Homo sapiens: one gene and its partner. The protein of the gene in region 1 interacts with the protein of each later gene in a pairwise test. Each region holds a gene or a part of one and is shown on either strand. Other genes may lie near its edges.

What was found. Proteins that work in one complex are often made in the same cells at the same time.
Region 2: the proteins of G3BP1 (region 1) and ATXN2L interact in binary tests that used the Homo sapiens proteins (3 or more experiments, as listed by UniProt).

The regions. Positions count from the first base shown.
Region 1 is NC_000005.10:151,791,963-151,796,915, reverse strand, and holds part of G3BP1 (ras GTPase-activating protein-binding protein 1), read right to left. Parts: intron 2,758-4,953; coding exon 2,667-2,757; intron 1,438-2,666; coding exon 1,341-1,437; intron 1-1,340. UniProt on the Homo sapiens protein: Protein involved in various processes, such as stress granule formation and innate immunity. Plays an essential role in stress granule formation.
Region 2 is NC_000016.10:28,825,461-28,830,413, reverse strand, and holds part of ATXN2L (ataxin-2-like protein), read right to left. Parts: intron 4,791-4,953; coding exon 4,734-4,790; intron 4,645-4,733; coding exon 4,573-4,644; intron 4,175-4,572; coding exon 4,024-4,174; intron 3,553-4,023; coding exon 3,428-3,552; intron 1,014-3,427; coding exon 922-1,013; intron 557-921; coding exon 356-556; intron 1-355. UniProt on the Homo sapiens protein: Involved in the regulation of stress granule and P-body formation.

The sequences.
Region 1 (4,953 bases):
CTCTCAAAATAGGCTGGGGCGGGGGGGGCGGGAAAGAAAGTTGCCATTCAATGGGTATAGTCTGTTTATAAGGTATATAAAGTTATCTTCAATAAAAGTTGTAAGGTGAAAAGTCCTAGATATCTGTCATAGAACCACATCTATACAGTTAACACTACTGTACTTTACACTTAAAAATGGTTAAGATGAAAAAAAGGTTAAGATGGCAAATTTTATGATATGTGGCTTTTAACACAAACACACAAAAACTCTTTCAAGCACATAAGGAATTTGGGGGAGAAAATAGTTATGATTCAGAATACAATTCTTAAAATTCCACATAAATCAACCAGAAATGCTGTTAAAACTGCAGAGGGGGCTGGGCACACACCTGTAATCCCAGCACTTTGCGAGGCCAAGGTGGGCAGATCACCTGAGATTAGGAGTTCCAGACCAGCCTGGCCAATATGGCGAAACCCCATCTCTACAAAAACACAAAACTTAGCCGGGCATGGTGGCGTGCGCCTGTAGTCCCAGCTACTCAGGAGGCTGAGGCAGGGGGATTGCTTGAATCCAGGAAGCGGAGGTTGCAGTCAGCCAAGATCGCGCCACTGCACTCCAGCCTGGGTAACAGAGCAAGACTCTGTCTCAATAGAACAAAAACAAACAAAACTGCAGATGTTTTGCCTCCTGAAAGTCTAATTCGGTAGGTTTGCAGTGGGACCATGAATCTTCATTTTCAACCAGCAACCCAAGTGAGTAACCTGATTAGTTCATCACACCTTAAGAAACACTTGAAAACACCCTTCAGGCACTGAATATTAACATTCAGTATCACATGGTAACAAGTAAATATGGATTTCTATTGCTATCAAACACATTTCTGTTCTAATCACAAGGGGGAAAAAACCCAAAGGTATAATGATGCACTTACTAACGTAATGAAATTCTTTATTGCTACTTAACTCACATATTGGTATTTATATCAATTTATGCCCGATCTCTAATTAAATAGGTCTCTGTCCACTTCATATTCCCTCAAAGCATTTAATACCTCAATACATTCAACTCTTGATAAACAATATGCAAGTTTTCACTTAACACCAAGAAAAAACTAAACCAAAAAGAAACTGATACTATTTAAACTAAGCAATAGTAGATTGCCTTCATAGTACAATTTACTATTAACAAACAAGTTACATATTTTTGTTTAGTCAAAATTACCAGAAACAAAACCATTCTTCTGAGAAATTATTATTTTGAGGTAATTCTCAGAATATGTAAATGCCCTCCAACAAAGGGAAAGACTAGACAATGCAAGTTCTTATGCAGCCCCGGACATGTGAACAAAATCTTCTTACCTGACAACTGCCTGATCATAGAAAGTTCCAGAATCATCAGGTACCACCTCAGGTGTTTGCTGTCTTTCTTCAGGTTCCTCTACTTCTTCTTCAGACTCTAAGTGAGAAAAAGATATTTAAAGTAATTTGTACTTACTGAATTCACATATACATTAACTTTCGCAATGTTCACAAAACAACAGTGAAGAAAAACATATATAAATAAACAAAGTAGGACAATTTGGTAAAATCATGGCACTGACTTTAAGGACAGAACTAAGGCTTTGAAGAACAGACTTTTTTTTGTTTTTTGTTTTTTGAGACGGAGTCTCGCTCTCTCGCCCAGGCTAGAGAGTGCAGTGGCGCGATCTCGGCTCATTGAAAGCCCCACCTCCTGGGTTCACGCCATTCTCCTGCCTCAGTCTCCCGAATAGCTAGGACTAAGGCGCCTGCCACCACGCCTGGCTAATTTTTTGTATTTTTAGTAGAGATGGGGTTTCACCATGTTAGCCAGGATGGCCTCGATCTCCTGACCTCGTGATCTGCCCGCCTGGGCCTCCCAAAGTGCTGGAATTACAGGCGTGAGCCACCGCGCCCAGCCTTAAGGATAGACTTTAAGGCTACTGTAGTGTCTTGGTTTTTAAGAGCATGGAGCCTAATGCAGGCTCTGTCACCTTACTGGCTACGTGACATTAGCCAAATTATATTAGGCAGTTATCTAATGCAGGCTCTACCACTTTACTAGGCAAATGATTGCTTATCTGTAAAACTGTATTACAAAATAAATATACTCTCAGCCATATAAACAACACTCAATTCTACTATTTTGGAGAAAATTTTCCATAAGTCTCTGTGTCTACACATCTTCCATGCCTACCCTTTCTTCTAGACTGTCTTTCAAGAACATTTATATAGCAAACAGCTTTGAAAGAGTATCTCCCTCCAGCACAAAGAGTAGTCATGTTTACTGCCTGTTGTAATAGATCTGGGTTCCCTAAACTCAGTGTCCCATGCCTTTAACACAACCCACTGCAGTAGAAGTATCACCTAGCCTTCTCCATGACATCCTATTGGTAAATGTGGCAAAAATACTACTACTGTCGCTGTGAGTTAGCCTGTCTCCTTCTGACCTAAGAGTCTTATGTCTTCTACTAACATCCATGATATAAGCTAACCTGTTAGCAGCTTCAAGTAGGGTAAAACCTCAGACTCTTCATATACCATAATTAGTTATTAATGAAGAACAGAGTGTAATGAAAACAGTAAAGAAACCCATAGTCTCTTAAGGGCAATCGGATGCCATTAAAAAAAATTTAGACAAGTAATTTAAAGTATTTCACTACTTACCCTCCTGAGGCTCAGTGACAAACCCACCAAAGACCTCATCTTGGTATCTGAAGATATCATTGTGAACATAGAATTTATTTGCAACAGACCCCTGCAATGCCAACAGAAAGTTTTAATTTATTCAACAGACTTTTAGAAAGTCAAATCACTCTACACCATTGGTGACTGGGACAAGTCTGCCTCCATGAGACATCTGGCAATATCTGGAGACATTTCAGTTTTTGTTGTTGTGGGGTTCTGAGACAGGGTCTTGCTGTCAGCCAGGTGGGAATGCAGTGAGCCACCACAGCTCACTGCAGCCTTGACATTCCAGGCTCAAGCAATCCTCCTGCCTCAGCCTCCTAAGTAGCTAGAACTACAGGGGCGCGCCACCATGCAAGGCTAATTTCTCTTTTTTCTTTTTTTTTTTTTTTTTTTTGAGTAGAGACGGGATCTTGTTATATTGCCCGGATTGGTCTTTAATTCCTGGGCTCAAGTGGTCCTCCCGCCTCAGCATCCCAAAGTTCTGAATTATGGGTATGAGCCAGCATGCCCTGCTGACATTTCAGTATTCACTACATGGAATGCTACTGACAACTTATAAGGTTAGGGATGCTGCTAAATTCCTACAATGCACAGGACAGGCTCCCACAACAAAGAATTAGTTAATCCAAAATGTCAACAGTGCCAAGACTGAAAATGCCCACTCTACAATAGCCGGTAAAAAGACTACACTCACATACATTTTGTTTGCTCAGAACACTTTACCTCACCACAAGATAAATATCCAAAAACTGACAAAGCCCTAAGCATGTAAATGCCACAGCCCACACCTCAAAACATTATAAGGCAATCATATCCCGGATGGGCACAGTGGCTCATGCCTGCAATCCCAGCACTTTGGGAGGCCGAGGCAGGCAGATCACCTAAGGTCAGGAGTTCAAGACCAGCCTGGCCAATATGGTGAAACCCCATCTCTACTAAAAATACAAAAATGAGACAGGCATAATGGCCCACACCTGTAGTCCCAGCTGCTAGGGAGGCTGAGGCGGGAGGATTGCTTGAACCCGGGAGGTGGAGGGTGCAGTAAGCCCAGACTGCACCTCTGCACTCCAGCCTGGGCGACAGAGTAAGACCTTGTCTCAAAAAAAAAGGCAATCATATTCCTAACTTCAGCAGATATTTAAAATTCCCCAAGTCTGTCTCCAAAAATATTGATATAAACACTCAAGGGTAGTGCAGCCTGAAAAAGATTGCTCGCAGTAGGTATAAGACACACCTGAGTGCAGATCCAATTATATATTATGAGTTATTCAGTTTCTAAGGCTGTTACTCCTCTGTAAAAAGAAAGGTACCAGCTAGGCACAGTGGCTCACTCCTGAAATCCCAACACTTTGGAGAGCTGAGGTAGGAGAACTGCTTAAGCCCAGGAGTTTGAGACTAGCCTGGGCAACAGTGAGTTTTTTGTAGAGTGAGTCTCCACAAAAGCAGAAACAAAAATCAGCCAGGAATGGTGGCCTGCACTTGTGGTCCCAGCTACTTAGGAGGCTCAGGTGGGATTATCATTTCAGCCCAGGCAGTCAAGGCTGCAGTAAGTCATGATCCTACCACTGCACTCCAGCCTGGGTAACACAGGGAGACTCTTCTCTCAAAAAACAAAAAAGAAAGATATCAACATATACCTCAATACTCTCTGTATTAAATGAGACAGTTTATATAATAGTGTATTATACTAAGAAGTTAGATACTTCCTTTAAAAGAAAAAAACTGTAATTAAACCTGTAATTCACAATCATACTCCATGTGATTCTTTGCATATTTAGAAGTCTACCACATCTTTACATTTTAATCTAAGCCTTCCTCTAAAAATTATGACTATAATTGGCTTCATGTAATTTTGCACAGACAAAAAGTTATCTCATATTCAAAGGTTAAAAGATTTTAGGCGTTTCAGGTTTGCTATCCTAAAAAGAAAACTTAAGATTAATGCTAGAGAAAACAATGATTTAATCAACAATTTCTTACTATGCCATTTCTATATACATGCTTAAGCAGACAGGATTCCTAACCTTGTTCAGTCTAGACCAATCCGGAAGAAAACACAAATGCAATCATTCAACATAAACTTGTCGTCCTTTCATAAGTATAACTAAAAAGAACCAGGCCTCCTTGAAGGAACAGCTGATTCAAGAATAGGGACTGGGCCAGGAACAGTGCAAGATGAACCTGGAAAATATTTTGCCATAAGTGTTCAAGAAAGATAAAAAGATAGAGAATCTCCCATCCTTCATTTACAAATCAAAAAGAG
Region 2 (4,953 bases), on another chromosome or scaffold:
GAGCCAACCAACCTGGCCAGTGCTCCACAATTCTACAACTCCTGACCTATGACAAAAGTAGGATCACACCGTAGTTCCAGGGATAGTTTTTAAAAGACACAAATAATGTAGTTATATTTCACTTTTATAAAAAGAAATAGCACATAAATTTTGAATTTTTTTTTTTTAGATCTACAAGCTCCAGCTTTGTTACTTTAGGCAAATTACATAATCTCGCTTTACCTCAACCTCCTAAACCTGTGTATGACATTTTACATGGTCACAAGGCTTAAACCACAGCACTCATCAACTCTGGGCCCAGGCCCCAGGATATTCCCAGAAGCCCCAAGTAGTCCTGGCTGTTTGCAACAGTCACCTGGATGCCAAGCTGGGGCTCTCCCGCCCTGAGCCCTGCCGCTGGACTGCACTGTGCTTCTCCTCTTCAGTGCGCCCATCGTCGTTCTCCATGGCGATCCGTAGGCGGTACTGGGGGCTTGATTCAATCTCTCGAGCCAACTGGGCCGCACGCAGCTCTCGCTGACGAAACTCTTCTGAGTTGTCCTTTTCTAAGGGCACCCTGAGACAGCACCCACAGACCACCACCATCCCAGTGCCAGGGGACAAAAGAGGAAAAAAGGAAAAACATTTCAACAAGTCCAATCACCAGTTCAGGCATGGAAGTATTTAATCCCTTCAACATCTGGGTAACGGGCACCGACTGCATCCCAGGTAGAGCACCAAGGCTTATCTGGGAATGTGAGAAGCACTTAAGACGCTTAAAACCTTTGAGGGAAGAATTCCACAAGGCAGAGTAGGAGTAGGGATGGCGACCCTGGACACCCAGAGAAAAATGAGCAAAAACTATGTTCTACCTGGAAACCTGTCTTCACTTAGTGACCCCATATCACCAACACATCACCTGGAGAGCACCAAGATACTCACGTATAAGAAGAAAGACTGCTATCATAGGTAGTCTTCACACCGTAGTTCTCCTCATTGAACTTGAACATTTCATTGGGGTCCCATCCATTGGACTGGGGAGGGAGGAAGGTGGTTTTAAAACCCAGCAGGAAAAGCAACGACAAGTCACTTCCCTTCCATCAGGTTAAAAACTCCAAGATGTGAACAAATTGGCTGGGCACAGTGGCTGAAACCTGTAATCCCAGTACTTTGGGAAGCTGAGGCAGGAGGCTCTCCTGAGGCCAGGAGTTTAAGGCCAGACTGGGCAACACAGCAAGAGCTCATCTCTAGAAAAAAATAATGAAACAGCCGGGTGTGGTGGTGCATGCCTGGGGTCCTAGCTACTCGCTACTCAGGAGATTGAGGAGAGAGGATCACTTGAGCCCAGGAGTTTGAGGCTGCAGTGAATTATTATGGCACCACTGCGCTCTGGCCTGGGCGACTAGCTGGGCGTGGTGGCTCATGCCTGTAATCCCAGCACTTTGGGAGGTGGGTGGATCACCTGAGGTCAGGAGATCAACCTGACCAACATGGTGAAACCCCGTCTCTACTAAAAATAAAAAATTAGCCATCCGTGGTGGCGCATGCCTGCAGTCCTGGCTGAGGCAGAAGAATCGCTTGAACCTGGGAGGCAGAGGTTGCAGTGAGCTGAGATCGAGCCACTGCACTCCAGCCTCCAGCCTGAGTGACAGAGTGAGACCCTGTCTCCAAAAAAAACAAAAACAAAAACAAAAACAAACAACTACAACAAAAACCCGGGCAACAGAGCAAGCTCGTCTCAAAAATAAACGACAAAACAAGAGTGGAAAAAAAATTGGAACGTGGCTGGCAAAAGTAATCAACTAATAATTGTAATTAATAACTGCAATTTTTTTTTTTTTTTTGGAGACAAAGAGTTTCACTCTTGTTGCCCAGGCTGGAGTGCAATGGTGCGATCTTGGCTCACCGCAACCTCCGTCTCCTTGGGTTCAAGCGATTCTCCTGCCTCAACCTCACGAGTAGCTGGGATTACGGGCATGTGCCACCACGCCCAGCTAATTTTGTATTTTTAGTAGAGATGGGGCTTCTCCACGTTGGTCAGGCTAGTTCCAAACTCCCAACCTCAGGTGATCTGCCCGCCTTGGCCTCCCAAAGTGCTGGGATTACTGGTGTGAGCCACCGCGCCCGGCCTGCAACTGTTAATGATTACTAACAACTGCAGCAGAAATTATCAATAACTAGTAAACCTGAAAAGTCATAAGACCTAACAATTCTATTTCCAAGACATCCCAGAAAAATTCTGGCACATGTGCGTGGGGAATATATGTTCTAAAAGTCCAGCAAGGTACTATTTTTAGTAGCAAAATAATGGCAACCAAATGCAGATGATTAAGGAAAAGGACAAATACAATTTGCTGTGTACACGTGTGTGTGTATATTTGAAAACAGCACACAACAATAGAAGCAAAGAACTAGATCTACGTACAACCATGAGAAGTTCGAAAAGGCAAGAAAAGCAAATTCTTGTACAAACTAAACATAACAAAACAATAATATATTCATTCACAAGACATTTGTTTCTCAACAGATAGTCTCGCTATGATGCCCAGGCTGGAGCACAGTGGCCATTCACAAGTTGAGTCATAGTGCACCAAAGCTTCAAATGATTCTCCTACCTCAGCCTCCTGAGTAGCTGGGACTACAGGTGTGGGACCACCACGCTCAGCTCTATTCATGAGCGGTTTTTATTTATTTTTTTGAGACATCCTCACTGTCGCTCAGACTGGAGTCCAGTGGCACAATCTCAGCTTACAGCAGCCTCAAACTCCTGGGCTCAAGTGATCGGAGCTCCTGCCTTGGCCTCCCAAGTAGCTGGGACTACAGGCATGAGCCACTGCGCTCAGCCTCATGAGATTTTAAATGCCTCAGAGTAGCTGATTTTGGGAAGAGAAATGGGCCTACACATTAATCTATACTTTTTGTTATGTTGAAAAATAACGTGATGCAAATGCTAGGAGTGGTTAATTATAGATAGTAAGAGAGTAAGTTGATGTTTTGGTTTTGTTGCGTGTGACACGGTCCACCCAGGCTGGAGTGCAGTGGTATGATCACAGCTCACTGTAGCCTCGACCTCCCTGGGCTCAAGTGATCCTTCCACTTCAGCCTCCCAAGTAGCTGGGACTACAGGTACATGCCACCAAACCTTGATAGCTTTTATATATCTTGTTGAGACAGGGTTTCACCATGTTGCCCAGACTGGTCTCGAAATCCTTGCCTCAAGTGACCCACCGGCCTTGGCCTCCCAAAGTGCTGGGATTACAAACATGAGCCACTGCACCCAGCTAAGAATAGATATTTTTACTTTGCTATTTTCTATACCTTTCTATTTGTTATCTGACTACCATCAATGGGCAACAGTAAATATTTCCCTCCCCACTCAAATGAACCTCACTGTCAACAACCCATTCTGTCTGTCCAGCTCCCAAGTTCTCAGGGAAGGAGGCTATACCATGTCAGACTCGAGGTCATAGTCGTCGCTGTTGCTGTCACCCCCCTCCCAGCGCTGAAGCACCTTCTCTTTGTGTTCCCCATTCACTTTCGAGTTCATGGCAATGGCTGAATCGGTGAACTTGTCTGTGGGGGCAGAGGTGAAGATCAGGAGTCAGGCTATATTTCACAGACTTCTTTCCAATATCCCCCAACCCCACTCTCCGTAAGTAGTTCAGGAACAAAGTTTAAGAAGTCCAGAGTACGTGTGCCCGTGTGTTAGGATGGCCAGGGGGTGGGGAGGCAAGAGAAGAAGAGTATAAAAAGTCTATCAGTACTATGATTCCAAAGAAAAAAGAAGTTAAAAACCAAGCAAAGAAAATATGAAGAACCACAACACAGACAGGAATTCATCGCATTATATATTAGACATCAAGACATATTTTTAAGAAGAAAAATCCACCCACTTCGCTCAGGAAAAAAAAGGCATTAAAGCAAAACAAACAAACAAAAACAAAAAAACAAACCAAACACATCACCATGTTCCACCTGCACACAAACTACCCTCTGTCCTCTATGCACACAGAGCAGGTCTGAGGTAACAGCCTAGGACAATACCTTTAGTAGCATAGTTGAAGTCAACATTTCGGAAGTGAACAAGCATGACATCACTTGGCTTAAACACCATGGTGTCCACAATGTCCTCCCGACGAGGGCCACCTGCTGGCTCAGATGCTTTCCGGTGCACAGCATCCACGGCTAGTTCAAACTACAAACACCCCATTCCCCACACCCATGGGTCAGTTTCAAGAAAAGTGAAGGCAAAAATAGAACTGGATTTCTCTTAAATAGAACTGGATTTCTCTTACCCTTCCCAAACTTTTCACAACACTACATCCTCAACATGCTTGGAACCAAGTGCATTGTTTTCTCAACATCAGCCACAGGACTTAGCAAAAGTCTCACAAAAATTTAAACTTAAATATTTTAACATTAAAGTACCCAGCCCTCAAATTTGTCTTTTTTCCCTGCAGCACTATTCAGCACAGGCCTACAGAAACAACTAAAGGCATACTCTGACATCACCCAATTGACACCTTCAATGAGCCTATTTCATTCTCCTCCTACTCTGCAACTCCAAAAATAATTAAATTTGAGTACACTGACCTTTGAGCTTAGCGTCTTGAAGATACCCTCATAAGTGGTACCATTTTTCACCTTTACATCACAAGTGGAGCCCTGGCAGAGTGGGAAAAATAAGAAGAGTGTCTCCAGAAAGTAGATGCATTACGTTCCTTAAACAACCCGGGGGTTAAGTACCAACTTACCACAACAGCTGTAAGGAAATGCAGCATTCTGGAATTGTTGTAGACGCCTTCAAACACCTGTCAGTTAACATAAGAGGGAGAATTAAAGGAGTAATCAGTCAACACCTCATTTTCTTTTCTAAATGCCCGCCGCACTCTACTCATTCTGCCTTGTGTGTGCCGGGCCCACAGCCCTCCTGAGTACATTAGACTCTATCTAGACCTAATGTGCCCTATATTC